Linked DNA regions of Homo sapiens: region 2 is linked to region 1. Evidence: fine-mapped expression QTL. A gene starts in region 1. The other region holds a variant in brackets. All regions are shown on one strand. Distances are between the middles of the regions.

Region 1 (15,569 bases):
CTTCCCTGCTTAATCTTACACTGGAATATACCTTTATTCAATGTACAGAGAGATTCAGGTTTACATTTCTGGATACTGACTGCTTGGCTTCATTTTACATTCTACCCCAGCTTACCTGCACCATGATCTATGCATCTACTTTTATCCTGCCATAGAATTTTTTTAATTTTAGAGATAGGGTCTTGCTCTGTCACCCAGGCTGGAGTGCAGTGGTGCGACCAGAGCTTAATGCAGCCTGAACTGCTGGGTGGGCTCAAGTGATCCTTTTTGCCTCAGCCTATGGAGTAGCTGGGACTACAGGCATAAGCCATCACATCCAGATAATATATTTTTTATTTTTGGAGATGGAGTCTTGCTCTGTCGCCCAGGCTGGAGTGCAGTGGCGCGATCTTGGCTCATTGCAAGCTCTGCCTCCTGGGTTCACGCCATTCTCCTGCCTCAGCCTCCCGAGTAGCTGGGACTACAGGCGCCCGCCACCACACCTGGCTAATTTTTTGTATTTTTTTTAGTAGAGACAGGGTTTCACCGTGTTAGCCAGGCTGGTCTCAATCTCCTGACCTCGTGATCTGCCCGCCTCAGCCTCCCAAAGTGCTGGGATTACAGGCGTGAGCCACAGTGCCCAGCCCCACATCCAGATAATTTTTAAACTTTTTTGCTTTTCAGAAGAGACAGGGTCTAACTATTTCTGAAAGAGGATAGAATAAAAAGTAAATACTAAAACCCCAAAACAGGGCAGGTGTGGCTTAGGCCTGTAATTCCAATACTTTGGGAGGCCAAGGTGGGAGGATCGCTTAAGTCCAGGAGTGCAAGACTAGCCTGGGCAACAGAGTGAGATCCTCTATTTATCTTTTCCGAATCGTTGTGGTGTGCTTTTGTGTGTGTGTGAGACTAGGTCTCACTCCGTCGCCCAGGCTGGAGTGCAGTGGCACTCCATAGCTCACTGCAGCCTTGACTTCCTGGGCTCAAGTAATCGTCCCAACTCAGCCTCCACCTGAATGGCTGGGACTACAGGCATGTGCCACCACATCCGTCTATTTTATTTTTTTTACAGACAAAGTCTTGTCATGTTGCCCAGGTTGGTCTTGAACCCCTGGGCTCAAGTGATCCTCCTGCCTCAGCCTCTCAAAGTGTTGGGATTATAGGAGTAGCCACCACATTTTGTCCCACCCCACTTTTATAACAGAAAATGTTATTGAACAAGCAAGGAAAAGTGCTAAGAGGATGTTCTCATTCCCAAAAGGCAGAATGACTGGATCTGGGAAGGACAGGCAAGCCTCACAGCCTGAGATGTGCTGAACAAACTAAACTGTGCTCAGAGTTCACCCACCACCAGCTTTAGCTACGCCACAGTCTGCTGGCTCTTATTCAATGTGCCTAGGTTTTGATAGACCCAGTGAGGCCTCTACATCCTGTTACAGGCTAAATTGTATCCCTCAAAAAAATTCATTGTTGAAGTCCTAATACCCAGCACCTCAGAATGTGATCATATTTAGAGACAAAAAATCTTTACAGGCCAGATGTGGTGGCTCATGCCTGTAATTCCAGGAGTTTGAGAGACTGAGGCAGCAGGATCACTTGTGGCCAGGAGTTTGAAACTGGCCTGAAAAACATATCAAGACTCCGTCTCTACAAAAAAATTTAAAAATTAGCCAGGTATGGTGGGGCACACTGGTAGTCCTGGATACTTAGAAGACTGAGGTGAAAAGATCTCTTGAGCCCAGAAGTCCAAGGCTGCCCATGAGCTATGATCAAACCACTGCACCCCAGCCTGGTCAACAGACCAAAGCTTAATCTCAAAAAAAAAAAAAAAAAAAAAAAAAGAAAAGAAAAAGGAAAAGAAAAAAAAGGCTGGGTGCAGTGGCTCATGCCTGTAATCCTAGCACTTTGGGAGGCCAAGGTGGGCAGATTGCCTCAGCTCAGGAGTTAGAGACCAGCCTGGGCAACATGATGAGCCTCCATCTCTATTAAAAATACAAAAAATATTAACATTAGTGGGGTACGGTGGCCCATGCCTATAACCCCAGCTACTCAGGAGGCTGAGGCAAGAGAGTTGCTTAAACCCGGGAAGACGGAGGTTTGCAGTGAGCTGAGATTGTGCCACTGTACTCCAGCCTGGACAACAGAGCAAGATTCTGTCTCAAAAAAAAAAAAAAAAAAAAAAAAAAAAAAGGCCAGGTGCAGTGGCTCACGCCTGTAATCCTAGCACTTGGGAGGCTGAGGCAAACTCAGGAGTTTGAGACCAGCCTGGGCAACATGGGGAAACCCTATCTCTACTAAAAATACGAAAAACTAGCTGGGCATAGTCCCAGCTACTCAGGAGGCTGAGGCATGAGAAGTGCTTGAACCCAGGAGGCAGAGGTTGCAGTGAGCTGAGATCATGCCACTGCACTCCAGCCTGGGCGACAGAGTGAGACTCTCAAAAAAAAAAAAAAAAAAAAAAAAAAAAAAAAAAAAAAGCAAGCAAGCTGGGCATGGTGGCTCACATCTGTAATCCCAGCACTTTGGGAGGTCGAGGCGAGCAGATCACAAGGTCAGGAGTTCGAGACCAGCCTGGCCAATATGGTGAAACCTGTCTCTACTAAAAATATAAAAATACAAAAATTAGCTGGGCATGGTGGCAGATGCCTGTAGTCCCAGCTACTCAGGAGGCTGAGGCAGGAGAATCGCTTGAACCTGGAAGGCAGAGGTTGCAGTGAGCCAAGATCGCGCCACTGCACTCCAGCCTGGGTGACAGAGCAAGACTGCAGCCTGGGTGACAGAGCAAGGCTCCATCTCAAAAAAAAAAAAAAAAAAATTCTTTATAAACATAATTATGTTAAGATGAAGTCATTAGAGTGGGCCCTAATCCTACATGCATGGTATCCTTATAAGAAGAATCTGGACAGAAACACTACAGAGGGAAGACCAAGTGAAGACACAGGAAGAGAGCCATATATAAGCAAGGAGAGAGGCCTGAAACAGATCCTTCCTTCACATTCCTCAGAAGAAACCAGCCTTGCCAACACCTTGATCTCAGACTTCCAGCCTTCAGAACTATGAGAAAATAAATTTGTGTTGTCTAAGCTGCCCAGTCTGTGAAACTTTGTTATGGTAGCACTAGCATACAAATACAAGCAGGGAGGCAGGTGGCTGTCCCCCACCATTGGTCAGGCATGGTTCCTTCTGAGGCCAAGGTGCTATTTTTATCCCTGATTTAGAGGAGGGACCAGAGGATGAAGGAGGTCCAAAGCTAAGCTCGCCCCAAGTCACCCTAGGGGGCAGGCTACAAGCTGATTCCAGGTCTGTCGGACACCAAGGTCTGTGCACTTTGTGTCATGTTGACTGCATCTCTGAATGGCTACCAAGGTTATCTGGTTAGACACCTTCACGTTACGGATGGGATGACAAAGGCCCTGGAAACCCAGCAAGTTGTCCAAATACATACAGCTAATTGAACAAACCCATTAAGCTTCACTAACCCAAGTCTTGCATTCTCCTCACCAAATTAAAGAACCTTAAAGTGGATGAGCATGCCTTAAGCCAGAGGACTGGATATATGAGAGATGATAAACTTATCTACCCTCAATAGATAAACTGATCTATTGACAGTAATGCAATAAACCTGAGTCACCAGAGGTCTACTTCTCTGCATTCAGGGAACTGACCAAGCTTGTCAACCTCGCAGGAAGATGACAGACGCTCAAAGCTACAGAAAAATCACAAATAAATGAACCCTGCAAACCAATGGATGGTCAGGATGCCTGACCGCGGTGTAAGGTGCTTTACCTCTCTGACCTTCTCATCTGGAAAAAAGCAATAGGTATCATATGTTGAACACTCACAGTATGTGAGGCACTGAGCAGCTATGGCACACATACAGCTCATCTGATCTTTGTAAAAGTCCTGGGGGTGTGGATATTACCCCTGTGGCAGTCTTAAGGGTGTGCTGCTCACATCTCCCTTCAAAAGAGAACAGGCTATGAGGAGTGCAGGCAGCCGACAATCTCCATCTTTGCAGTCCACCATGGCATTCAACTTGAGGCTACTCTCTCCCCATGTTGCCAGCCTGAACACACCGGGGGTGCCAGTCCGCCCATTTCTGCCCCATGCTAGACTCTTCTAACGAGCAATCGCTGCCTTGCTGAGATTTCCTCAAAACTACGCTGTAGTCTAAGGCTCTTCCTGCTCAATCCTCCTTCCTTTCCCCTCTCATTTCACCAGTCAGACCAGCACCATAGACTGAAAATTTCCCTGCCTACTACTGCTTCCTTGCTCTTTTATCCTTTATTGTCATTTCCCCCAATAAATACCTTGCAAAATTCTGTCTTGGCATCTACATCAAAGAACCCAACATAATACCACCCCCATTTTACAGATGAGAAAACTGAGTGGTTAATACATCTAAAGTCATATAATTAGGATTCAAACCCACATCTCTCTCTGACTCCCAAGTCCAAGTTCTTAACCAGTGGTTTAAAGAACAAAGAAAGTGTGAAGATACAACTGAAAAACAATGCTATAAAAATTCAGATGACTATGCAAAAGGCAAAGTTGTGCCATGAGAAGGACACCATATCAGGAAACTACTCCATTATTTATCATCAGAGTGATGAGCCCTTTAATCTCATTCTCCCTATTTTATGGATGACAAGACTATCACCAAACCTGCTTACCTCACAAGGTAGTTGCAATAATCAAATGAGACTCCTCCTCCAAGAGAAAAGGGAAACAAATACAGTAGGTGAGAAGATTCTGCTAATCGCAAAGCAAGTGGAGGCAAATGGATAATGGCCCTGAATCTGAAGGATTCTACTGAAGGAAGTAGCACTTCTCCCAAATAGACCCCCATATTTGGGGATGGAAAAAACAAAAAGGACAAAGTAAAATATTCCAAACCTCCAAATGGCTTTTCTGCCTCAAGATTATGTGTCTCGTTCATGCCCACACCCCCAGAGCCTATAACAGCACCTGACTGGTATGCATTAGGCACTTAGGAAATCACTGCTGAATGAGAACAATTTCCAGAGACCCTCAACACACACTTTTCTGTCCTTCAAGACACAGGGCCATTCCTCCCACACAGCCTCACATGCAAAGCAGAATACCTGGCAGTTCATGTTGTCCTCTGCTTCAATGAGCTTCCCCCGATATACCTCACCGGTGTTCGTCTCACATGTCACAATGTGGCCCTCGGCCTCATGCAGTACTTTAATCGGCACACCAATAGACATCTTGGCAGGAAGAGAGTTCTACAATGAGAGAGACAACAGTCAGTTCATCTTTCAGAGTCTGAAAAGGCATGTGGCACACATCATGCTTCCTTTAAGGCCTGGCACTCCATAAAACTTAGCAAAAACACCAAAGCTGCATTTTCTACCAAGGAAAAAAAAAAAAGCTCAGCTCCTGGTTTGGAGGAAACTATCTGGCAAATATGTGCAAGATGTGGGGTGAGGAGGAATGATGGGATGGACAGAAGTAAAACTAGGAATGAAAAGAGAGCATCTCCCATGGGTCATGTGTCCCCGCTACCCTATGTCCCTTAATCTTCAGCTAAAGGACCATTAGCCAATACTGTGTGTGTCAGGGGAGGGGGACTGGAATGTTAATTTGTTGCACTGTTATTTGTTAACCCTTAATTGTAGATGATTACGTTTTGAGAATAATACAGGCCCGAGCTGTCCAATACAGCAGCTCATGTACACACGTAGCTATTTAAATTAAACTTAACTAAAACACAATAGAATTAAAATAAAAAAACCCAGTCCCTCAATCCCAGTGGCCATATTCCAAGTCCTCAACGGCCACATGTAGCTAGTGGCTACCCTATGGAAGGTGCAGATACAGACCAAAGGACCATGCACATCTAGGAGAGCAGGCTGTACTTTTAATTCAGCCCTTTAACCCTTCACTTATTTTACTATCAAGGATATTGAGAAAATATCAAAGTGACAACGTGCTATATGCAGGAAATGCTTGTCATGGAGGAAAATCAGGGAAAGCACCTGACTTGACCTAATCAAAAGCATCAAGCAGTGAACTTTTTATTGAGATGAGCAACAACTCTAAGTTTCAACTTAAGCGTACCTAAGACAGGAGAACATGAGGTTGAAAGGACAGGCTCCTTTGGTGAGGATCCCTGGCTTTCAGCCTTAGGAGTCTAGATTTTATGCTGAAGGTAGTGGAGAACCACTGCAGAATTATATGTAAAGAATGACGCAATGAAAAGATAGCAGCATTTATTTACAAAATGGATAGAACGTAAGGTTTAGAAGCAGAGAAACTTGTTAAAACTTCTGCAACAGTTAAAACTGCTGCAACAGTGTGGAAAGCATGAGGGGACCATTGCCTGAAAGGGGACTGGGGCAGAGATACAAAGAACTTTTTAAAAAATGACCGGCTGGGCGCGGTGGCTCACGCCTGTAATCCCAGCACTTTGGAAGGCCGAGGCCGGTGGATCCCTTGAGCCCAGGAGTTCGAGACCAGCCAGGGCAACATGGTGAAACCCCGTCTCTACTTAAAAAAAAAAAAACAAAAAAAAACTCATAGGATTTGGGGGAAGGAGATAGTCAATCAGAAATGACTTCGAGATTACTGCCTGGAAGCTTTGAAAAACACTCACCTGGAGAGATACAGAATGTGAGAAGCATGCACGTTGAGGGGAAAGCTAATGAACTTACTTCCAGGAGCTAGTGAGGCGACGCTGATGTTTGGGTGGCCCAAGCTTCCCGCTTTCTTCCCTCCCCGAGCCCCGCAGAGTTCCATGCAGCAAGTCTTTCTCCAGCCCCTGGCCCCTCACAGGCGCCTCGACCTCCCCTCGCCCGTCCCCAGCCTCACCGGCTCTGGCCTACTTTTCTTCTCTTCGGTCCGCTGCGAAAGATGCTACGGCGAAGGCGTGAGTCAAGCGAATGGCGGGCCTAACACCCAGAATTCCACTCTTTCCCAAAATGCTGCGCGCAGGGCCCGCCTCCTTCCTTTCCCCAGTGTTGAGCGCGGTCTCGCCTCCGCTTCCTCCTCACTCCGCCTGCCGGCTGGGAAACTAGGGCACCAGTACGATAGTTCCGGCACCGGAAAAGAGGGCTGATGACTGGGCCCGGGGGCCGCCGCAACGACCCTTGGGGCCGGCAAAGAGCCAGAGAGGGTGCTCACACTTCCAAGCACCCCACACCAAGGACAGGCTGGACGGCAAGGCGGAGACGCGGGGCTTGGGCCCTCAGACCGGGGACAGCAGGAGGTTGGGCCAAGGGCCAGGACTTCCCGTCACAATTTCATTTGTTGATCCCGGCACCGCCAGGTAAGGGGGGCCCTGAGTGAGGCTAGGTATCTGGTACGGATAAAGTTAGGTATAGAGTAGAGCGGCTGCCCGCTCAGGGTTATCCCTAAAGACAGTTGGAGGAGAGTTGCTTGGGGCCTCGGGGATGCACTGGGCGGGATCAGGGCTTACACCTAGGACTGGCAAAAGAGCGGGACCCGGCAGAGGCGGGGCTTGCCGAAGGGACGAGCCTCTATTCAGGAAATGCACGAGCTTTGGGGCGGGGCTCAAAGAAAGGGGCGGGGCTTCCGGGGCCCGCGTCCTGGTGAGCTGCGCGTCTGCGCGAGGATTGGGCGAGAGGGTGGGGCCACTCAACGCTGAGGCGGCGAATGGCCGGAGCAGACTTAAATCAAGAGGCTGGGGACCTCTAAGATCAAAGTTTGGGGCGGGGCCTAAGGAGGGGGCGGGGCCTCCAGATTCGAGACCTGGAAGGGCTGGGGCGGCGCTTGGGGCGGCCCAGCCGCCGCCTCCCGTTCTCTCCTCCGCAGCGGCGGCGGTGGCGGAGAAGGAACTCGACACGCACCGACCGCCCTCCCGCCCCAGCCGAAGCGGAAGCTGTAGCCCGCTCTGGGCCGGGGCCATGGGCGCCCCGCGCCGCCCGGGTCATGAGGACGGAGGCGGAGGCAGCGGGGCCGCCGCTCGAGCCCGGTCAGTGCCTCTCTGTGGGCCCAGTCTTCACCCTAGGAACGAAAGGGACCCCTCCCTAGCGCGGGGCAGGGTCCAGTCGCGCGACCTTGGGCCGACTCCCGCCTCGCCCCCACACCCGCCTGGTTCCAGTCAGTGGGGGTTTCCTGACACTCGCAGGATTGCGACCCTTGTCAGCATGGTGGGAAGGTCCGGGTAGCAGGGGCACCACCTTCCCCAGAAGCGAAAAGTCCTGCTGGAGCCGCCTTGGGAGCTCCCATGCCTTGGGAAACCGTGGAGGACTGAGGCTGGGAAGGGCAGGAAACTGGCCGAGAGCACCGAGCAATGGAAGGGCCAGTGCCCTGGCCTCCGAGACTCGGCGTTTTGTCTTGCTCTTGTTCTTCACTTTCGTTCTCTCTGCCACGCGGTAGCCTGAGCCCCTTTGGGGCGGAGACCCGGACTGGTATTCAATGTCTTGGCCGTTAGTTTGCTTGCCCAAGACGTAGGGGAGGGGGAAGACGTGATTCCTGTCCTGCTGAAGGCGCGGGGTTGATGACAAACGGAGTTCTAGCTAGTAAACTCTGAAGTGAAGTGCCAACTGTGGAAGAGGTCAACAGCATGTGGGACCCTGACCTTCAGGTGTCACTCCCAGGGAGTGTTCCCTTTTGTGTCTGCTGTGTGGAGTTGGTGGGGGATTTACAACCCTCCTCCTCCAGTTGTCTAGCCCTGTGGTCTGAGACAAGATACTTGCCTTTCCTGAGCCTCAGAGGAGGAATGGCTTACATTCACAGGGAGTGTTCTATGAGGCAGGCGCGCGCTGCGTGCAGTTGTTTACATGCAGTGCCTCATTAATCCTCATAACGAACCAGTGAAGTAGGTGCCCACTGTGATTTGCACTTTTGCAGCTGAGCAGACTGAGTCTGAGATGGGTTAAGTATTAAAGGCTAGTGCACTGCTTGCCTTCCTTAGTGACAGCCACTAACTGAGCTCAGGCCAGGGCCTTCCAGGCAGCCCTTTGGCTCCAGGCAGCAACGTCTGGCTGTGGCTTTGTGTTTAGAAGGCTAAAGCTGTTATGGGGACAGATGCCAAGGCCTCGCCTAACCTTATCACCCCCAACATGAGCACCTCTAGGTCCGATCCGCCCTTGCCGAGGCTGGAGATGGCCCTGTGGGGCCTGCCAGGCCTCAGGATCAAGGAGTTCTAGAGCGCAGGGCAAGAGGAGGAGGCGCAGCTGAGTCTCTGAGAGAGAGCTGCTGTCTTGTGCCACATTTTATAGCTGGACATGGAAAGGCATGGACAGTCATAGCCTGGCAGAAGATAGCCCAGCTAGTCAGTGTCACAGCCCAAGCCACAGAGTAAGGAGGGAGCCTCACACAGAGGGCTGTAGTCTGGAAGCCTGGGGGAGGAGGGGTGCAGAGCAGGGAAGTGACAAGTAGGCCTGGGCATCTCAAGGTATGAGGTCTTTTTGGAAAACGCCTTCCATTCCCCAAGCATATCTAAGTGCCTACTCTGGGCTGAGGGTTGGAAGGAGGCAAATGCAACCTCATCCCCATCTGCCACTGAAGAATTCTCATTGCCTCTTTAAGGACTCCATATTGAGGGGCCCTGAGAGTGAGAGGGATTAGAGCATGGAGACAACATTAACATTTCAGACTAAGGCTCATCAGCTATCATTAGTGATAGTGTAGTTTATGTGTGGCCCAAGACAATTCTTCCAGTGTGGCCCAGGGAAGCCAAAAGATTGGACACTCCTAGACTAAGGGATGTGCAAGAGCAAAAGCTGGGGAGGAAACAGTATGAGTAGAGAAAAACAAAAAGGCAGTGTGTGGCTGCTGTGAGGGGTTCTTGAACAGGCAGGCATTCACCGTGACAGCACAACATCCTGCATAGAGCTCTCCCACTGCTCAGCTCTTTATGAGTCCCTAGGGGTCAGGGCTTGGGTGGGTCTTTAGTTACCTTTGTGTCCCCAGAGCCTAGCAAACAGTGAGGGCTTATTTTATTTTTAATTATCTGGGTGTGGTAGCGTGTGCCCATAGTTCCAGCTGCTCAGGAGGCTAAGGTCAGAGGATCCCTTGAGCCTGGGAGTTCAGGGCTGCAGTGAGCTCTGGTCACACCACTGCACTCCAGCCTGGGCGACAGAGTGAGACCCTGTTTCAGAAGAAAACAAAAAGTTCTTTTTTTTCCTTTTCCTTTTTTTTTTTTTGAGATGGAGTCTCACTCTGTCGCCCAGGCTGTAGTGCAGTGGCGTAATTTTGGCTCACTGCAACCTCCGCCTCCCAGGTTCAAGCAATCCTCCTGCCTCAGCCTCCCGAGTAGCTGGGATAAGAGGCTCTGGCCCCTGCCCGGCTAATGTTTGTATTTTTAGTAGAGACAGGGTTTCACCATGTTGGCCAGGCTGGTCTCAAACTTCTGACCTCAAGTGATCCGCCTGCCTTGGCCTCCCAAAGTGCTTGGATTACAGGCGTGAGCCACTGTGCACGGCCTAAAAAAAGTTTATTTCTTCCAGCAAATATTTATTGAGTTACTATTAAACATTCAACACCAGCAACTGAGAATAACAGTGAACAAGATCAGCAAGTTTCCTGCTGTCTCAGTTCATTTGTGCTTCTATAACAAAATACCTGGGACTGGGTAATTTAGAAACAATAGAAATTTAATTTCTTTTTTTCTTTTTTGGAGATGGAGGTCTCACTATTTTGCTCGAACTGGTCTGAAACTCCTTGGCTCCTCTTGCCTTGGCCTCGTGAGTAGTTGGGATTACAGGTGTGTGCCACTGTGCCCAGCTCTAGAAATTTAATTCTTCACAGTTCTGGAGACTCTGAGGTCCAAGATCAAGGCGCTGGCAGGTTCTGTGTCTGGTAAAGGCCTGTTCCTTGTAGATGGTGCCACCTACGTGTCCTCACATGGTGGAAGGAACAGAAAGGGCATGAACACTGCTTTTACATGACAGAAGAACAGAAGGGCAAAAAAAATGGCCTATGCTAGTTTCCTCCAGCCCTTTTATAAGGCACTAGTTCACTGATGAGGGCAGAGCCCTCCTGACTTCACAAAAGGCCACACTTCTTATTTATTTATATTTTTGGTTGTGGATATCTTCTGCACCCATTTCTTCATACCACCACAATGGAGATTAAGTTTCAACATAAATTTTGGAGAGGATACCATAGCACCTGCCTTCAGGAAGCTTGCCGTCTCAAGAGAGTGGCTTGATGCTATTGTTACTTTTGCCAAGCACTGTGAAGGAAACGAATAGGATGCTGTGAAGGAGAGTTCCCTCGTTTCTCAAAGGCTTAGTCAGAAAAACCTCTAAGAAGAGATTTTGAGCTGGGACCTGAATGACTAGAAGGGACACAACCTTGAGAACAGCAGCCGGGAGAGAGTTTCAGACAGAGGGATCCTCACGTGCAGATGCCTTGGGGTAGAATGAAGCCTTGATGAGTTCACAGGTTAACTAGACCACAGGTGAGGGCAGCCAAGATGAGGCTGGCGGGCCAGGTTAGGCAGGGCCCCGGTAAGGGATGAGAACCTTATTCCAAGAGCAGTGGGAAACTGAATGGGAATCCCTACGGCTGCTGTATGTAGAGGTGGGAGAGGTGCTGGGAGTGGAATTTGGGGCAGGGACAGGCAGGGGTCAGTGCCACTGAATCCTTGGCAGTGATAGCAGGGGAACATGTGAGCGCCTTGAGTGAACGGCCTGGGTATCTTTTGGAGGCATCTGGGTTAAGAGGAAGGAAGAGAATGAGGCCTCAGTCCAGCCTGGGCTTAGCATACCAGGCCCCAGCTGGGGGCAGGTTCACATTATTAGCACCTGCAAAGGGCTTTATAGACGTTCTTGTCCTTAGGGTTCACATCACCCTGCAGGCTGGCGTCTGGTAGTCCATTTCACAGAGGAAGAAGCAGGCACAGAGAGGCCAGGCAACTTAGCTAGCAGGTGGCCTGCTTTGCTCATGCCATTGTGCCTTCCATGGGCCCTGCTGCACATGGAGTAGAAAGACACCAGGAGCAGTGATAGGTCCCTGCCTCTTGGGAACGTATAAGCAACACAGGAGGGCACAGACAAGCTCAATGCAAGGGCCGCATCCTAGGAGGCAAAGTGTGAACTCAAGCCCAGAGAAGTACAGATGAGTGAAAGGGTGTAGCCAGTCTGTGATCAGGGAAGGCCCTGGAAATGGCCTCTGAGCCAGGCCTTGAAGGCTGGGGAAGGTCAGACATAGGAAGGGAGGAACTTGGGATTCAAAGCCTGGTAGGTTGGAAAGGCCAGGACAGATCCCAGGACTAGTGAGTGGCCGTCTTAGCTGGCGCACACAGGGAAGTGAGGGGAACTGGGGCTGGCACAGCAGGAGGGCTCCTGGGGTGGCTCTACACAGAGCTGGTCACACAGTCCAGGAGAGACCTGCCAGATGGGGAAACAATGTGGGCAAGGTTTTCACGTGCTGAATGAGTGTCATGAGTGAGTAACAGCAGAGATAAGTCTCTTCCTCTTTAGACTCTGAACTTTGTCCAGGTTCATGAGGTGGCTACGGAGGAGGGTCCTGCATGCCACAAGCCCATTTGCCCCACCTCAGGGCCTTAGCACATGCTGTTCCCCCATCCCCTCTAAGGCACACCCCCACTGTTTTCCCCAGCCTAGGCCTCTATTTTGCTATGTTTGCTTATTTTTGCTATCCACCAGGAGAGTGACTTTGTGTCATTCACTGCTGTATCTCCAGTACACACACCAGGCACTTACTAGGCTTTTGGGAAATATTTGTTGACTGAATGACTGAATCAGACCAAAGTCCCCCTGTTTAGGGATGGCCAGACTCATTCCAGCAAGAGGAAGTCAGCTGCCCAGCCCACAGCCAGCCAGCAGTGGCACAGTTGAGACTGGAACGCTAGGTCAGGCCCTTTCTGCTCCACCTCACAGCCTGGCAAAGACAGACCGAGAGGTCGCCCAGGGTTGGTGGGGGATGGAGCTCACAAGAATATTACATATGCTTCATAGCTTACGTGACAGTTCCCTTCTCCTGGCCATGGTCTCACACCCTGGTGGTCCTGGGGTCTTTGGAGTCAAGCAAACCTCCAGGGGCCTCATGAACTCAGATACATTATCTGCTGAGTGCCTCCCATGTGCCAGCCCTGGAATGAAAGCAGGAAACAAAACAGCCCCTGCTGGCCAGGCGGAATGGCTCACGCCTGTAATCCCAGCACTTTGGGAGGCTGAGGTGGATCACCTGAGGTCAGGAGTTCGAGACCAGCCATGGAACCATGGACAACATGGTGAAACCCCATCTCTACTAAAATTACAATAATTAGCTGGGCATGGTGGCGCACGCCTGTGGACTACAGGCTGCTTGGGTGGCTGAGGCAGGAGAATTACTTGCCACCCGGGAATCGCAGGTTGCAGTGAGCCGAGATCATGCCACTGCACTCCAGCCTGTGCGACAGAGCAAGACCCTGTTGAAAAAAAAGAAAAAGACTCTGTCCCTCCTCCTCAGAGCTCCCACCAAAAGAAGGGCTTTGAGTAGGCATGGTGGGAAGTGAATGCACATGTGGGTCACTGGGCCTGAGAGGGGCAATACTGGAGAAGTGACATCCAAGGGCAGGAGTTAGCTCAGGCACCTGGGAAGCCAGGTATGTCCAGGCAGAGGAACCAGGTGTGCAAAGACCTCCAGGGTGTGAGGGATTATGACAAGCAAAGGCAAGGGTGCAGAGGGTGCTAGGGCAGCAGCCATGGAGGTATTGTCTTAAGGAATGTGGGACCCAGCTCACTGGAGGATTTTCAGTTGGGCTGACCTGCTCTGGCCGGTGTTTTGGGGAGATCACTGCTATTATAGGAGCCTGGATTTGAGGGGATTCCTGAAGGATTGTGGGAAGGTCCCTGAGCAGCCCCTGCAGGGTCTAGGCAGGAGGCAGTGACACTGGCTCCCATGAGGGTGGGAGTGGTGGGCTCTGCGCTGAGGGTCTGTGACCTCCCTCTGTTTCTGCACAGGGGACTTTGTGCAACTGCCTGTGCCCGTCATCCAGCAGCTCTACCACTGGGACTGTGGCCTGGCCTGCTCCAGGATGGTGCTGCGGTGAGTGGGGCCAGGGCTGGGGGCCCAGGTGCTTCCCATCTACATCTTCTGCTCTGGCTTGGGAGAGACCTGGGTGGGATCCATGGTCCATGTAGCTATCTTTGGTTGGGGCTTGCAGGAGGCCAAGCTTCTACCTGGTCCTAGTCCCATCTGCAAAAGTGAGCAAGGGGTGGACCAGGCCTTCCAGCTCTCCATGATAGTAATGTCTGGGGGCTTGGGGTGGCCAGGAAGTCCCAGGTGCCCAGGCCTGTCCTACAAGGCAGTTCTGTGACTGGGATAGGAGGCCCTCCACTCCCCAGTTTCTGGCTCCTGGGAGAATGGGGTGCTGACCGTTAAGCTGAGGCTGTGTGAATATCACAGAAACCTGGACAGTGAGAGCCAAGAGGGACTGTAGCCGTCACCTTGTACAAGAGTTTTTCATTTGGCTTCCTGGAACCACAGGGCAGCTGCATCTTCATCTGTTTTACATCCTGGGAATCTCAGCAAGAGAAAATTCAACAAAAGCGTTCTTTGCCTAAAACTTTGAAAACCACTGATGTGATCAGGGACCTTATTTTAGAGATGAAGCTAAAGAGGCCAGAGAAGACAATGACTTGCTCAAGGTCACAGCCCACAAGACACAATAGATTTGAGAAGCAGAGTCCAGGCCTGCAACTCTGGAGCCAGGACGGTGCCCCAAGCAGCCTGGGCAGTGTGTGGGCAGGACCTAGGGTCTCATGATGAAGGAGGGAGACTTCTGGGGAATGGGACCTGTGACGGGGCTCTTGGGCCAGTGGGTGGAGGGTGACTCAGACCAGTTGACCCTCAAGACCAAGCTGAGCTCCCCAGCTCGTCTACCTGCAGGTACCTGGGCCAGCTGGACGACAGTGAGTTTGAGAGAGCCCTGCAGAAGCTGCAGCTGACCAGGAGCATCTGGACCATCGACCTGGCCTACCTGATGCACCACTTTGGCGTGAGGCACCGCTTCTGTACCCAGACCCTGGGTGTCGACAAGGGCTACAAGAACCAGGTGAGCGACCAGCCACCAGGCCTTCCCATGTGGGGCCACACAGAGGTATAAGGCCACCTGGTTCCAGTAGTTGGAAGAGGGAACAGTCAAGGGCTAGACACCCAGGTAGATACCCAGGTGTGCAGAGACCAGGGAGCAGCAGCAGAGAGGCTATAGGCAGGATTTGGGAGCCAGTCAGAGCAGGTGCCCTTGCAGTCGGGCCTGCCCAGAGGATCTGAGTACTGAGTCCTGGCTCCTGTCCACCTGCCTTCTACAGCCCTCAGAATGTGCAGAGGCCACTTCCTACGTTCTTTCCTACTGTCCTCAGCACAAGGCAGGCCCAGGGCCTCTGAGAACATCACTGACCTCATCCGGCCATCATTTGCACATTTTTTTACTTTTCACCAGGAGAGCCAGCTTTTAAGCTATATAATTGGTAGTCTAGAAGAAAACCAAAATACCATCTTTTCTTTTTTTTGCCTTTTGAAAAATAATGCCAACATAGCCATGCCAGCAAAGTGTGTTCCGTGGACGACACCTAGCTAAGCCAAGCTGTAGCTGAGCTGTCCCAGGTGGTTCAGCCTCATCCCCCTTGCTTATTCGCTACGGGCTC
Region 2 (15,569 bases), 44 kb before region 1:
GAAGTCTGAGCCAGGAACAGCTGCGGACCCAGCCCAGGGGACTTTGGACAGTGCTGCCCATTCCCCTGTGGCCCTCATCTGCCAAGGATATGGGCCAGAGTCTCCCTGAGTCATGGCTCCCTCCCCTGCTCCTGGGCCTGCTGTGTCTACGGTGCCGGAGAGCCCCTGCAGCCTCCACCTGAGGTCTATTCCGTGCCCATAACACCTACCCCACAATCATGCTTCCAGGCTGCCCCAGCTGACAGAAGGGGACATGAAGGCTGACCCAATATTGCTGCCTGCCTGGGTCACATAGGCCTGTCCTGTCATCCACTGCTCTCAAATGGGCTCTGGACAGAACCCACCAGACACACAACTGTGAGATCCTCAATAGCCCTAGGGTGGAGGTGCTGTGACCAAGTCCTTTCCCAGGCTATTCCTCCCCGTGAAGATCAGGGTGACTGGGAAGATGACAGGGCAGGAACCAAGGTCCCATGACCTGTCCCTGAAGGCTAGACAGCCAACAGGAACATCAGGGGATTTGGCCCTGCTAAGTGGCTGCATTCCATGGCAGTCAGCCAGGAGGGGTCTAAAGTGGAGAGCCACAGGGCTCTGTCCCCTGCCCCGGCCTGCTCAGCAGTTTCCTCTCTGCCTGAGAGCATATAAGACATGCATGTTCTCACTCATAGGTTGGAATTAAACAATGAGAACACTTGGACACAGGAAGGGGAACATCACACACTGGGGCCTGTTGTGGGGTGAGGGGAACGGGGAGGGATAGCATTAGGAGATATACCTAATGTAAATGACAAGTTAATGGGTGCAGCACACCAACATGGCACATGTATACATATGTAACAAACCTGTACGTTGTGCACATGTACCCTAGAACTTAAAGTATAATTTTATATATATAATACTATATATAATATATTTATATGATATATTATATAAATTATATAAATATAATATATGATATATTATATAAATTATATAAATATAATATATGATATATTATATAAATTATATAAATATAATATATGATATATTATATAAATTATATAAATATAATATATGATATATTATATGTAATATATTATATATAATATTATATATTATATATAATATATAATACACATCATATAATATTATATAATATATAATACACATCATATATTATATAATATATAATACACATCATATATTATATAATATATAATACACATCATATAATATATAATATATAATACACATCATATATTATATAATATATAATACACATTATATAATATTATATAATATATAATACACATTATATAATATTATATAATATATAATACACATTATATAATATTAAATATATAATACACATTATATAATATTAAATATATAATACACATTATATAATATTATATATATAATACACATTATATAATATTATATATATAATACACATTATATAATATTATATATATAATACACATTATATAATATTATATAATATATAATACACATTATATAATATTATATAATATATAATACACATTATATAATATTATATAATATATAATACACATTATATAATATTATATTATATATAATACACATTATATATTGTTATATAATATATAATACATATTATATAATATTATATAATATATAATACATATTATAATATTATATAATATATAATACATATTATATAATATATAATACATATTATATAATATATAATACATATTATATAATATATAATACATATTATATAATATATAATACATATTATATAATATATAATACATATTATATAATATATAATATAATACATATTATATAATATATAATATAATACATATTATATATTATATAATATATTACATATTATATAATATATAATATAATACATATTATATATTATATAATATATTACATATTATATAATATATAATATAATACATATTATATAATATACTTTATATATTATATATTACATATAATATATAATATATTACATATTTTATATATATATATGACATACAGGATTCACAGCAGCAGGTGGGCAGAAAGAAAGTCTGAGTGGGCAAAGGATGGCCCAGATCCCTGCAGCTGACCCCAAAAGGAAAACCCTGGGCTGGGGAAAGTAGGGAGACAGAGCTGCCTTCAATGGGGCACAGCTGAAGCCTGGCAGCAGCTGAGGATTCCAGAGAGGGGAGACAGGAGGGGAGGCACTTTATCAAAGGACATGTTAATAGAGGTAGGGCCTACAGAATGAAGGAGGCTTTTCCTCACATGCTGAGTGTGTCACATTCTGTCCCAGTCAGCCCTCTACCCCCTGAATGCAGAGAGGGCACCTAGGGGGAAGTGGGTCTGGGGAAGCCATGTCACCTGAGGAAGGACTGCAGGGGCTGGCCTAGAAGTCTTCTCCAGACCCCACAGCTCTTGTCCTGGGCACATAAGGTAGTGAGTTCCCTGTCCCGAGAAATGTGCAAGCCTCACTCACCCAGAGACACAGACTCTGGTGTCAGTATCACCCACTTCCAACACACGTGCAAGCACGTGCGCACACACACAACTGAGCCTCATTTAGGCTGAGCAGAGCAGCTTCCCAGGATGCAGCAGAGAGAGGAGTATGAGGAAGAGGTAGACACGGCAGCCAGTCTGAAGTTTCCTGGTTAATCCTTCAACCCAGCTTGATGGCTTTGTCACCACAACCCCAGAGCCACAAGGGTGAAACCAGAGCACAGCCCCAACCCCATTCACAGGCAGGAAACTGAAGCTTAGACAAAAGGGATTTTACGAGGTCAGCTGGCCCCAGGAAGTCTGCAGACCTGCGGGTAAGCCCAGGACCCACCCACCCCTTACCCTGCCAGCCCCCAGCCTGGAGTCGCTATCCCTCGATATGAGAATGCACAGATCTCTGGCGTCTTCCCCAGGACTGCCTACAGCCCTGGACTGGATGCTTACTACCCAGACGTGGAGTTGGAATCTGTCTCTCACAGTTTCCACCCTTGCGGCACAGAGCCGAGAATCAGAAAAAACACCCCTTCAGTAAGATTTAATAACCACTACCTGCTGGAAACCTGTCGAAAGAACTATATATATCCCTATATATATAGCTGAGAGGTGGCAGGCGCCCCCTGGAGTTGGGCAATGACCCCTCGCACAACCGGCCCTGCCCCACCCCAATCCACAGCCACAAACAGAACCCAGGAGCGAGGCAAGCATGGCCCAAGGACACAGGGTCCCCCAACCCCATCACAGCTCTGGCTCTACTCCAGAGCTGACCCCCCGCCCCCACTCAGGGCTGCCAGATCCTCCAGGGCCTGTCTGTTCATGCTGCACTCTTTCCTCTTAATTCCAAGAAGCCACGGCTCTCTCAAGAGCTTCTTCGCACAAGTCAGGTGACTCCCCCCAGCCCTCCTTCACCCACTCGCATACCTCACTCAAACTCACATAAACTCATCAGCCAAGAAACAGAGGCCCCCAGCCCAGACCCAGTCGGATAAAGAACCCAGGGCTCTGCCCACCTGTGGGATCCTTCTGCAGGATGCGCCCACACAAGTCTTGCCCCCTTCACCCCGAAGTGCAACTCACTCCCACTGCACGGGTACATAAACCGAGGCTTGGAGAGGAAGAGGAACTCCTCTAGAGCGCAGCAAGCATATGGCAGAGCTGAGAATGGGACTCAGGCCTCCAGACACTCATGGGAGTGCCCTGACCTGAGCTTCCCCACCTATGATGTCCACCAGCTCAGAGAGGGTGAGCGGCGCCTCTGGGTCACACAGCACTGGGGCACAGCCAACTGCTCTCACTTCTGGGCTCACCCGACGCCCGGTCTGGTCATCCAGCAGCACACCAAAACCAAGCTAAGATTCCCTGCTGTGACCCAGCTCCTCCTTCCCTCCCCTAGTGGCCTGGGGGCGGGGCGGGGGGAGGGGAGGCTTTAAAGGCACAGGAACTGCTGCAGGTGGGATGTGGGCTGGCTCCTGGTCCCATCCCTGAGGCTGTGATCTGGGACCGCTGCAGGCTGCAGGTGTCTCTGAGCCCGGTGGGGTCTCAAACCCTGAATGAGAGACCTGAACTCTGAAAGCCTCGGTGGGGCTGAATGAGGCTGGGTTTCAGCGGGAGGCAGATTAGACCAAAGGTTCCCTGGGAGATGGGGCCACAGAGCTGGGCTGCAGCCAGATGCCCACGCCAGGAGGGGCTGGAGATGTAAGCATCTGAGGCCCCACAAGGTCTGAGGAGCCTAGTTCACCTCTACAACCCCAGGGCAGGGGATGCCTCTCCTAACAGGCCCTCTCCCCAGCTTGCAGGACTACAGGTGGGGCTCTAGGAGCTGTCACTCCAAGGACCCTGGTCACCTGGACTGAAGGGAGTCACATAATCCAGGAGGGTCCTTCCTTGACCCCCAATTTCAGGGGTCTGAGCAAACAGGCTGACCGAGGACCCCAGGCAACGGAAGCAGGGGGATGAGGCCCATCTGTCCATCTCATGCCCTCACCTGCTCTGCCCCATTCAATGAGATGGGGTGGGTGCCCCCACAGCGCTGGCAGGCCGAAGCCTCTAAGCCCTCAGATCGAGGTCCACACATGGTCTGCAGCCTGCCAGTATTGTCACTCTTAGCAAGGCTCACGCTTACGTTCCTTCTTTCATTCCATCATTCATTCTCCCATCAAATCCTGGCCCCTCCAGATTCTTCTCTCAAGGAGCCCTGACCTGGCTGGGCATGAGAGTATGGTCACCCCAGGGGGAAGAGCCCTAGGGAAGGGGCAGACACCAGAATAGGGGCCTTGGGAATCCAGCCCGAGCTGGGATTGGATTTGGGGAGGACCTGCCAGGCGGAAGGAACCACCTGAGCCTGAAGGCCAGGAAATGGAGCCTTTTCCAGGAAGTGAGGGCTGCAGGGGACCTCTTGACCACCCTAGGCCCGTCCTGAGCCCCGAGGTGTCAAAGCTGGAAAAGGAGGTGGCCGAGCTAAGACGTTCAAGGCCAGGCCAGTGTGGACTTTGAGAGCCCTGGGAGGCTGGTGAATGTGTCACCGGGCCCAGTAACCCATTAACCCTGGCTCACTCATTAAGACCCTGGTGGGTGTCCATTAGCTCCTTGGCCAGTTACAGGAGCTGGGCAGAGGGTAGGGGTCATGGGAAGAAGGGAGTGCTGATTGGGGTGCTAGGTAGAGGCTGGCTGAGCTGGCTCTTTTGTGTCCTTGTTCCTTGAGGAGGGTTCCAGGGCCAAGCTGGCCTCCAGCCAGGGGCAGCTGCCAACACAGCCCGGGGCGGGTGCCGCCCCACCATCCTAGTGACTTTCATCTCCTTATCACCCTTGTGTGCTGGCACCAGCAGCCCACAGTGCCTCAGGGGCCTTGGCCAGACAGGAGGCTCAAAGGGCCAGTCCAGTGCCTGGCTCAGCATCCAGCCACACAGTCCCTCTGAGAAATGGGCCCACTGTGGCCTCCAAAGCCCAGTCTGTTTCAACGGGCTGGGATCTGCCCCACCTCTGTATCTGGGAAAACAAGGCCCTGGTGGGGCAAGAAGGGAGCTCCTGGCATAGGAACCTGCAGCCTGAGAGGGGAAGGGACCTGCCCAAAGCCACTCGGCAAGAGAGTGACCCATGACACCAGGAAGGCTGTGCAAACCACTTCCTGCAACTGGCATCTCATTGCAGCCCCACCCCCACTGACAGGTCCAAGAAGCTGACAACACTGAATACCAGCAATCACCCAGAAAGCCTCATGCCCTGAGTGGGCCATGGTGAGGGCCATGGCGGGGTGGGGTTGGGGGGCGCATGGGGGCATGACATCCCGAACTGCCATCATGAGGCTCACAATGATCGAACAATGCGGATCGGTCCAGATGCAAGCGGTGCCTGGCCCATACTCCAGAACCGCTGGAACAACATCTCAGGGACCCCTGGGAGCCAGAAACCCAATATTATCCAGGACATTTTGTGTCTCCTGGTGTCCTGCACCAAGGAGACACTTGGTAAACTGGCTAAATAGAACTGACTTCAAATCCAAACATCATAGCATTGGATTCAATATTAGGATCACAGAATCTCAAGTGTTTGCTCTCTGATCTTCCAGCATCCCAGAAAGGTTGGCTTACATACCTTCCCCAATGGGGAGCTCACTACCTCCAAAGATAGTGGGACTCTGGTTGGCTGGCAAGTTCTTACCAACATTAAGCGCCAATTTGCCTCTTTGTAACACCTGCTGCAGGTGGGCCTGGCCTCAGATCCTGCCCACTGTCTAAGGTCACAGAGCAGAGAAGCAGGGGCCACTCCAGATCCTGTACCTGGCCACAGCCTCTCTGAGCCACAAAGACCACACTGAAGGAATGGGAGGAAGACTTCAGCTCAATGGAAGTGCTGGTGCTACTCAGCTGTGATGGAGGGAGGTCAGCACAGGCCAGCTGTGGGCATGGGCAGAACTCCTGTGCCCCCAGAGCCTGGCCAACACCCCCAGTGCCATTTGTAGCATTTGTTATTCCAGCACCCACCTGTGATGTCAGGACACAGACTGAAGCATGGCCAAGTGCGTGGGCCCTTCAGAATTGTCAGCTTGTGAATGCCTGGGAGCACCCAGCAGCAGGGCTGGCCTGGCACTTGATGGAACAAGTCCAGCTCCAAAACTCAGAGGCAGGATGGCAGAGGCATGGGCCCTAGAGTCCCTGGGTTTAAACTCAACCCCAGCCACTGATAGTGTGGGTATCACAGCAGCCTTTCCCTTCCTAGCCTCAGTCTCCTACCTAGAGAGCAGGGATAACTAGAACAGTTGCTGGGTGGATTCCTTGAGATGACAATGCACAGACAATGCACCTCCTACTTTCAAGGCCTCACAGGGTCTGGCTAGGCTCCAACACCAGGCCTGTAGGAGCTTCTCCCCTTTCCTGATGAGCAGCTCAGAGCAGGGGCCCAAAGGGCCCCCCTCCTGGCCGCCCTGTCCTCCCTGCCCAAGGCACCCTCCACAGGTAGTATTTATCACATCACCTGGTAATTATCTGCAGTGTCTGAAAGCTCCAAGGAGGGGATGGGGGTGGAGGAAGACTGTCCATGCCCCAGTCCCGACACCATGCCACAGCCTGATCTCCAGGAAAGCCAACCCGCTCCTGTCTCAAGGCCTCCCTGGTGACATGCCCAAGCACACCTGTTCACCCACAGCCCCCTGTGACTTCACTGATGCCAAAACTGCGCAGCACTTTCCACGCATGCCATGCTCTCACCTGGACTTTTGGGGACCTCCCCCTGCCTCATAGCAGCACCTTCCC[G/T]ACCTCCCTCGCTTCTTGGATGCTGGGCTCAGGAATGCTCTCACTGACGAGTCTGCGCCCTGCTGGCTAATGTTTCAGATGCGCCAGGTGGACGTGCCCAAGCCTGAGCTAAGCAACTGCCACCAGAGCAGCCAGAGTCTAGCCCTGGGCAGCTACCCCTGCATCCTCACTGGGCCTGTCCAGCTGCTCCCACCTCTATAACCCACTACCAGCCTCACCTGACCTCCAGTCCCCATAGGCCAACCCTCTCACCTGGAGACTCCCAATCACAGGTCCCAGCCCCTCTGCTGTTTCCCTACTGCAGCCCAGGCACTTGGCATGCAAATCTGAGCACACCCCTCCCCAACTGAGAAGAAAACACTCCAGAGGCCCCCCTTGTCCTACCTTGCTGGTGCCCGTCCTTTCCTCTTTTTTTTTTTTTTTTTGGAGTGGGGCAGCTGGATATGAGCTATCCTTTCCTCTTGCTCCTTCCCAGTCTTTGGGACTTTGCACTGACTCCATTATCATGGAGACACTCTTCAGACATCAATCACAATGCCACCTCCTCCTGAAGCCCTCTGGCACTGCATCTCACTCTGCAGGCCGGCTGCGACTGCTGCCTCCTCCACAGTATCCACAGTGCCCAACAATCTTCACTGAATGGATGGATGCCAGCTGTCAGGTGGCTAGCTGTTTTTACTAAAATGCATCTTCTAGGACTTTACACTGAATCCACCTAGCCACCTGACAGCTGGCATCTCTAATCTTGTAATCCCAGCACTATGGGAGGACGAGGTGGGTGGATCACTTGAGACTAGGAGTTCAAGAGCAGCCTGGGAAACATAGAGAGACCCTGTCTTTAATTTCTTAATTAATTTTTTTAAAAAAGGCCCAAGAGGACAGGGTTTGGGGAGTTTCATGTGGAGGCTGACAGGAAGGGGAACAAGAACTCATCCATGGCCAGGTGCAGTGGCTCATGCCTATAATCCCAGCGCTTTGGGAGGGCGAGGTGGGTGGATGGCTTGAGCCCAGGAGTTCACGACCAGCCTGGGCAAAATAGAGAGACCCCATCTCTACAAAAATAAAAAAGTTAGCTGGGCATAGTGGCACATGCCTGTGGTCCCAGCTACTTGGGAGGCTGAGGGGGGAGGATCACTTGAGCACGGGAGGCAGAGGCTGCAGTGAGCTGAGATAGTGCCACTGTACTCCAGCCTGGGCAACAACAAAAAAAACCAACTCATCCATGTGTCCAGCTCTACCAGGACAGAAACTTCTGTACTTAGGAGTCTTCCAGTCTTTACCCTATGTATCTCTTCATCTGACTGTTTATTTGTAGCCTTTATCTTTTTTTTTTTTTTTTTTTTTGAGACGGAGTCTCAGTCTCGCTCTGTTGCCCATGCTAGAGTGCAGAGGTGTGATCTTGGCTCACTGCAACTTGCACCCCTCGGGTTCAACCGATGATTCTCCTGCCTCAGCCTCCCAAGTAGCTGGGATTACAGGCTCCTGCCACCACACCCAGCTTATTTTGTACTTTTAGTAGAGATGGAGTTTCACCATGTTGGCCAGGCTGGTCTCCAACTCCTGACCTCAAGTGATCCACCTGCCTCGACCTCCCAAAGTGCTGGGATTACAGGCGTGAGCCACCGTGCCCGGCCTATTTATAGCTTTTAAAGTTTCCTTTGAGCTACTGACTTTAAGGGATGATAAAGTATGTCTGAGGAGAAAATAAAATAAAACATCCTTTGAAATAAACCGATAAACAGGTCTCCCTGAGTTGTGTGAGCTACTCTAGCAAATTAATTGAACCCAAAGAGGGGGCCTTGGAACCCCAACTAGAAGCCAGTTAGTCAGATGTTCCCAATGCCCAGACTTGTGACTGGTGGGATGGGGGTTGGTCTTGTGGGACCAAGCCCTCAACCTGTGGTTTCTGAGGCCATCTCCAGGTAGACAGCACCAGAATTGAGTTGAATTGGAAGACACCAGCTGGAGTCTGCTGCAGAATTGATTCTTGCTGGGTGTGTGGGAGAATCCACAAATTTGGTTACAAGAAGTCTTCTGTGATGATTATTGTCTTGTGAGAACAGAGGCGAAACACAGTTGTTTTGTGTGTGTGTGTGTGTGTGTGTTTTTGAGATGGAGTCTCACTCTGTCACCCAGGCTGGAATGCCGTGGTGCTATCTCGGCTCACTGAAACCTCCGCCTCCTAGGTTCAAGCGATTCTCCTGCCTCAGCCTCCTGAGTAGCTGGGACTACTGGCACATGCCACCATACCCAGCTAATTTTTGTTTTGTATTTTTTAGTGAAGATGGGGTTTTGCTATGTTGGCCAGGCTGGTCTCAAACTCCTAGCCTCAAGTGATCCGCCCACCTTAGCCTCCCCAAAGTGCTGGAATTATAGGTGTGAGCCACCACGCCAGGCCAAAAAACACAGTTTGAGTTGGTTTTTCCTCACACGACCTTATTTGGAAATAGAGTCTCTACATAAGTAATTAGTTAAGATGAGATCATACGGGATTAGAATGAATGAGCCCTGTTGGGCACAGTGGCTCACGCCTGTAATCCCAACACTGGGAGGCTGACAGGGGTGGATCACCTGAGGTCAGGAGTTCAAGACCAGCCTGACCAATATGGTGAAACGCTGTCTCTACTAAAAATACAAAAATTAGCTGGGCGTGGTGGCGGGCACCTGTAATCCCAGCTACTTGGAAGGCTGAGGCAGGAGAATCGCTTGAACCTGGGAGGTGGAGGTTGCAGTGAGCCAAGATCATGCCATTGCACTCCAGCCTGGGCTAACAGAGTGAGACTGTCTCAAAAAAAAAAAAAAATTAAAATTAAAAAAAGAATGAATGAGCCCTAAATCCAGTAGCTTCAGTTCTTTTTTTTTTTTTTTTTTTTTTGAGACAGAGTCTCGCTCTGTCACCAGGCTGGAGTGAAGTCACCACGCAATCTCAGCTCACTGCAACTTCTGCGTCCCGGGTTCAAGCGATTCCCCTGTCTCAGCCTCCCAAGTAGCTGGGACTACAGGCATGTGTCACCACACCAGGCTAATTTTTTTTTTTTTTTTTTTTTGTATTTTAGTAGAGACAGGGTTTCACCATGTTGGACAGGATGGCCTCAATTTCCTGACCTCATGGTCCGTCCACCGCAGCCTCCAAAAGTGCTGGGATTACAGGCGTGAGCCACCGCACCCAGGCACTAGCGTTATTACAAGGAGGCCATGTGAGCCGGGCATGGTGGCACTCACTCATAATCCCAGCTACTTGGGAGGCTGAAGCAGGAGGACTGCTTGGACCCAGGAGTTCAAGACCAGCCTGGGCAACATAGTGAGACCCCACTGCAAAAATAAGGAATGCCATGTGAAGGCCACACAGACACATAGGGTAGATGGTTTCAGAGACTGGAGTGATGCAGCAGCAGCCAAGGAAGGCCAAGGATTGCCAGGAGCCACCAGAAGCTGAAGAGACAAGGAAGGATCTTCCCCTGGAGTCCTCAAAGGGAGTGTGGCTTGGCCTATACTTGGATTTCAGACTTTTAGCCTCCAGAACTATTCTGTTGCTTTAAGCCACTGAGTTTGTGGTAATTTGCTATGGCAGGTCCTTACTCTGCCTATGGTTACACATCCAACAAGTGGCAGCCCAGGGGATTTGAATCCAGGCCCTGAGCCTATACCTGTGATCTCGCCTCACCCCGCCAAGCTCTGCTGCCTACTACAGCCTCATGACAATTCCTGGCCCTGCAGAAGGTTGACAACCCGTTCCTGTAGAGCAAACACAGAGGACATTCTGTCTCCATAGAGTATCCATCTGCTTCCTTCCTCCTAGCGAATGCCCCCAAACCATTCTGTGTCCTTCTTTACAGTGGCTACCAGGAGGCTCAGTGCCACTCAGCTACTTGCTGAGGTAACATTAACCCTGAGCTGGCCTTTTTCCCTCCTGGGCTTGAACAATACTACTGGGTGGGTAGAGAAGGGCCCAGAGGCAGTGCAAGGCCAGTTCCAGCCCTGGCTGCAGCCCTCTACCTGCCCATTGGGCCAGCTGGACCTTGTGTTCCTGTCATTTGAACTAGGCCACCGCATGGGTGGCAGAGGGCTTGAGACTCCAAAGGTGTGGCTGTCATCAATTCTTGTCTCCTGGCAGGTCCCACTTGGAGCCTAGTACGTTCCCATCAGGGCCTGAGGTCTAGCTGTGTCCTCCCTACCTGATTCTCCAGCCCCCAACCTCCCAACTCACTGACTCACTAGGGATGGCAGGGCTACCCTGAAGAATCCAGGGCAAGCCCTTGAGCTTCCACATCAGCCCCGGGAACTGAGAGGACAACATCGCAATCCCTCCACCCCATGGAGTCTCAACAAACACAGCTCTGCTGCTCAGGGTAACCCCAGGGAGACGGGCCAGCAGCCCTCCGTGAAGAACACATGTGGGCTAGCGAGGTGGAATCATGCCCCCATGCCTGAGGGGAGAGCTGTGCCTCTGGGGGCTGCTGTCCAAGTCAGGTTAGGCCAGAAATTGTCTCCAAAAGCCCACTCGCCCTAGGCACCCCACAAGCAGGCAGAGAAAAGCCCATCCAAGGATCTAGGCCCAGACACCACCCTCCCTCTTTTGCTGGAAAAATGTCCTCCAGGAACCTCTCGGCCAGGGACACAGAGGGTGGGGGATGAGAGGCAGGGGCTGGGGCAGTTCTCTGCCTTCCACAGGACTCTAAGCTCTGAGCACTCCCCCATACCGCTGCCTAGGTTGCCCCTTTCATGCCTCCAGGCTCAGCCCTCCATTCCCTCCTTTCTCCCCTCCCCCTGCCCAGTATTCTCACATTTGAGGGGACAGTGCCCAGGCCTGGCTCAGCCTCTGGGAGGATATGGTCAGGATCTGGGAGCCCTCCCAGCTGTGGCTCCAGCCCTGAGGCTGCAGGGGAAGAGGAGGAGGGCTTACCGGGCTGCCTGCTCTGGGCAGGGGGGTCTGAGAGGTCCCTGGGGCATCAGAGCTGCAGCTTAAAGCTCTGACCGGGTAGGTTGCCACTTCAGTTCAGCAACAGCGCCTTGGCCCTGGGGGAGGGCACGCAAGGCCGTCATGCAGGTTTGCCAGGGAGGAAACCTGTGGTGCCAAGGTGGCCCCAGGACAATGCTGGCTGCACTGGAGTGGGAGGAGAGGCTGTTGGGTCCAGCTGGCAGGTGCCAGGGGAGAAGGGGGTGCAAGCACTGCTCCAGCAGGGGTTGGGGGTCCGTGGATGGTCAAGGGGCTAAGACATCCTGCTGTCCTCTGCCTTGTCTCAGGGGCCCAGCCCCACAGGATGACAGAGCCTAGCACCCTGCCCTCTCCCCACTGCCATCTCTGGGCAGGCAGTGCTTAACCCAAAGGAAGGAACCTTGAATCTTCATAGGGTAATTAGCAGACACACACACACACACACACACACACACACACACATACACACGGGTGCTTGGCTGTCGTCCCTCATATATGCCCTCGGACAGTGCTCAGCCCTTCCTGCACAACAGGTACCAGTCCTCACAGGCTAAACACGTGCTCCTTGCTTAGAGAAGTGGGAACTGCAGATCAGTGCCTCAAACGTTCCCCACGCAGGAGATGTGAGCGTCCCAGAGCCGGGATTGGGGCTGCAGGGGCCCAGCAGGCCTGCAGCAGAGACCTAGGCTTCTGCTGAGGGAGCCCTGGGAAGTGGGATACACCTTGAGCTGGGTGGGTCCGTACCTCACCCTGGTCCTCAGAGGAGCCAGGGCCCCCATCTCACTCTGCCTGCCGCCACCCCCACCCCTTGTCAGGGAGGCAGACTGAAGCCAGCGGCAGATACAGCCCGCCTGCTGCCAGCTTGCCCAGAGCTGGGCTTAACGGTTAACCTGACTCTTCGTCCGGTTTATTTCCCAGGCTGGGGTCAGAGGTGGGGGCCTGCCCCAAACCAAGAAGCAGGAGGCAGTAAATATTTGCCAGTGCAGGAGTGTCCATGTAGCGTGAGCAGGTCCTACACCACAACTGCCAGCTGCAGAGATTTCTTTTCTTTTCTTTTTTTTTTTTTTGAGACAGAGTTTTGCTCTGTCACCCAGGGTAGAGTGCGGTGGCGCCATCTCGGCTCACTGTAACCTCCGCCTCCCAGGTTCAATTGATTCTCCTACCTCAACCTCCCGAATAGCTGGGATTACAGGCGCCCGCCACCACGCCCGGCTAATTTTTTGTATTTTCAATAAAAATGTGGTTTCACCATGTTAGCCAGGCTAGTCTTGAACTCCTGACCTTAGATTCCGCCTGCCTCGGCCCCCCAAAGTGCTGGGATTACAGGCGTGAGCCACCATGCCCGGCCTAATTTTTGTATTTTAGTAGAGACGGAGATTCACCATGCAGGGCATATTTCTAAAAGCAATGGGGGCAATACCTAACACTGGCACACACAGCAGAACCCCCCCACCCCGCCTAGAATGCTCTTTGCACGGTCAAAGCGACTATTCCCCAGTCAGCACTGGGGCCAGAGGGTAAAGAGGTGCCAAAAGCCACCTCGTCTCGGCCGAGCTCCGCGTCTCCCCTGGCGGCTCCAGGCCCTCGGGTTCTAGCGCCAAGACTGACGCAAGCAGGGCCTCCTCCAGTGTGATCAGGCCAAACCGAGGAACCCACTGGCCTCGCTCCGGCGCGGGGTGGGGCGGGCGCTCAGCCTTCGGACCCGGACGGGGCAGGGCCGCGGTGATTGGAGGCGGGGCGACTAGGGGCGGCCCCGGGAGCGGGGCGCAGACAGCCCGGCCTCCTGTGGGTTCGGCGACCATCGCGCGGCGGCCATGGGGGCGCGGCTGGGCCGGCGGGCCGGGCCCGAGGCTGGCTCTGAGGCCGGGGCGGCGGCCGGCTGCGGGCCCGCGCCCTACGAGCGCCGGGTGCGGTGGCTCCGCGAGATCCAGTCCACGCTCCGCGAGCGGCGGCCGGAGCGCGCCCGGCAGCTGCTGCGCCTCCTGCGCCAGGCGAGAGAAGGAGCCGTCCGCCCCTGGGCTGGCGGCCAGGGAGGGTCTGGGGGTCTGGGGGTCTGGGAGGCGCGGGGCTATGGGTTGTGGGCCTGTATCCGCCGGGAGGCGAGGCGGAGCTGGTCTCTGGCGCGCGCAGGCGGGTTCCGAGGGCGCGACAGGCTGCAGCACGCGGGGTCTTGCGTGGGCGAGAGGGCGACCGCCTGGAGTGAGGGCTGGGTGAGGTCGGCGGACCGTGTGGAGGAGGGGGCTGCTGAGTGTGTCCGGGTCTTTGGGGTTTGAGAGGGGTTGTGTGTGTTGAGGGTGGCCCGGTAGCCTGGACCTAAGAGCCCAAATTCAGGCCCTGGCAAGATGGGAGGGGCCCGGGAGGAGTGGCAAGTGAGGTCAAATCATCTTGTATTGAGAGACAATGGAAGAGGGTAACTTCCCCCTCCTCCAGGATCCGGGAGACAGTGGACCCTGGAGAGAGGACCCAGGGCTGGTCTAGGGATGCAGCCTCACCCCAAGACACCATGGCAGCCCACAGAGAGCCATCCATGCATCACCAGTTCTCCAACAGGCGGCTCATGCCCTTAGAGTACACATCCCCAGCATCTGTGCATCACAACACTCGGTCCGGTGGTGGCTCTGCTCCTACACACACCAGGTACACTAAACCCAGATCCCAACCCCTGGGTTGTCCCAGGATGCTGGTCCCCCCAATCACCTGGGCATGCCACTTCCCTCACCACCCCGTCCCCACCCCCTACAGCAGCTACCACCACTACCTGCCCCATCCTGTGAGCAGGAAGTCAGCCATGCAGGTGTTCGGCCTGCAGAAGGTAGATTAGAAATGGGGAAACTGAGGCATGGAGCGAAGTGGTCACCCCAGGGCCCACAGAGAAAATGTGGGGCAAGCCAGGGCCAGAGCCCTTCTTCCTCCCTTCCCTTCTCCACCTCCTCCAACTCTGGATTCAGCAGGCTGGAAAAATGGAGCTGTCCGTTTAAGAGGAGCTGTCTAGACCCATGGAAGGCAGGCTGGCAGGTTGCGGTCTGGGGCCCTGTCTGGGTCTGCCAGGCTCATCAGCCAGCCTTCCTCCTGGATCTTCCCTAGCTGGCATCTGTGGCAAACAGCAGAGCAGCACTGAATCAGCCAGACAACCAGAGGCACAGATCTCAGTCTGGGATGCTGCCTGGAGTCCAAGACACCAGTTGGGCATTTTAGCTGGGAAACTAGAGGGAAAGAAGGATCCTCAGAGACCACCTCTTTGTGTCTCAGAGGTTGGGATTTGAGGTCCAGCCGGGGCCTATCCTGCTCCATAACCTGCAGGGACCCTGCAGCTGTGACCCACGGCCTCCCCTGCCTGGCCCAACTTCCTGTGCTTGGGACCCACGCACAGAGCATATCACCTATGGATT

Evidence for each region. PIP is the estimated chance that this variant, and not a neighbour inherited with it, causes the effect. A credible set is the group of variants that fine-mapping cannot tell apart.
Region 2: its variant is the best candidate, but not a certain one, in a credible set for the expression of SNRPD3 in whole blood (TOPMed, PIP 0.60).

The regions. Positions count from the first base shown.
Region 1 is chr22:24,547,316-24,562,884 of GRCh38, reverse strand. SNRPD3 (small nuclear ribonucleoprotein D3 polypeptide) reads right to left here and starts at 6,886. Exons shown (of 4, transcript NM_004175.5): 1 at 6,814-6,886; 2 at 5,085-5,228. The coding sequence starts at 5,210. GUCD1 (guanylyl cyclase domain containing 1) reads left to right here and starts at 7,747. Exons shown (of 6, transcript NM_001284254.2): 1 at 7,747-7,936; 2 at 13,884-13,968; 3 at 14,812-14,977. The coding sequence starts at 7,894. RefSeq lists enhancers at 471-972, 3,307-3,356, 7,079-7,178 and a silencer at 7,639-7,998.
Region 2 is chr22:24,591,465-24,607,033 of GRCh38, reverse strand. GGT1 (gamma-glutamyltransferase 1) reads right to left here and starts at 3,841. Exons shown (of 16, transcript NM_001288833.2): 1 at 3,507-3,841. LRRC75B (leucine rich repeat containing 75B) reads left to right here and starts at 13,961. Exons shown (of 4, transcript NM_207644.3): 1 at 13,961-14,171. The coding sequence starts at 13,995. RefSeq lists enhancers at 2,531-2,620, 2,028-2,992, 2,993-3,958, 11,528-12,498, 13,548-14,540 and 1 more and a silencer at 13,834-14,063. The variant G/T (reference allele first, on the strand shown) is at 7,245.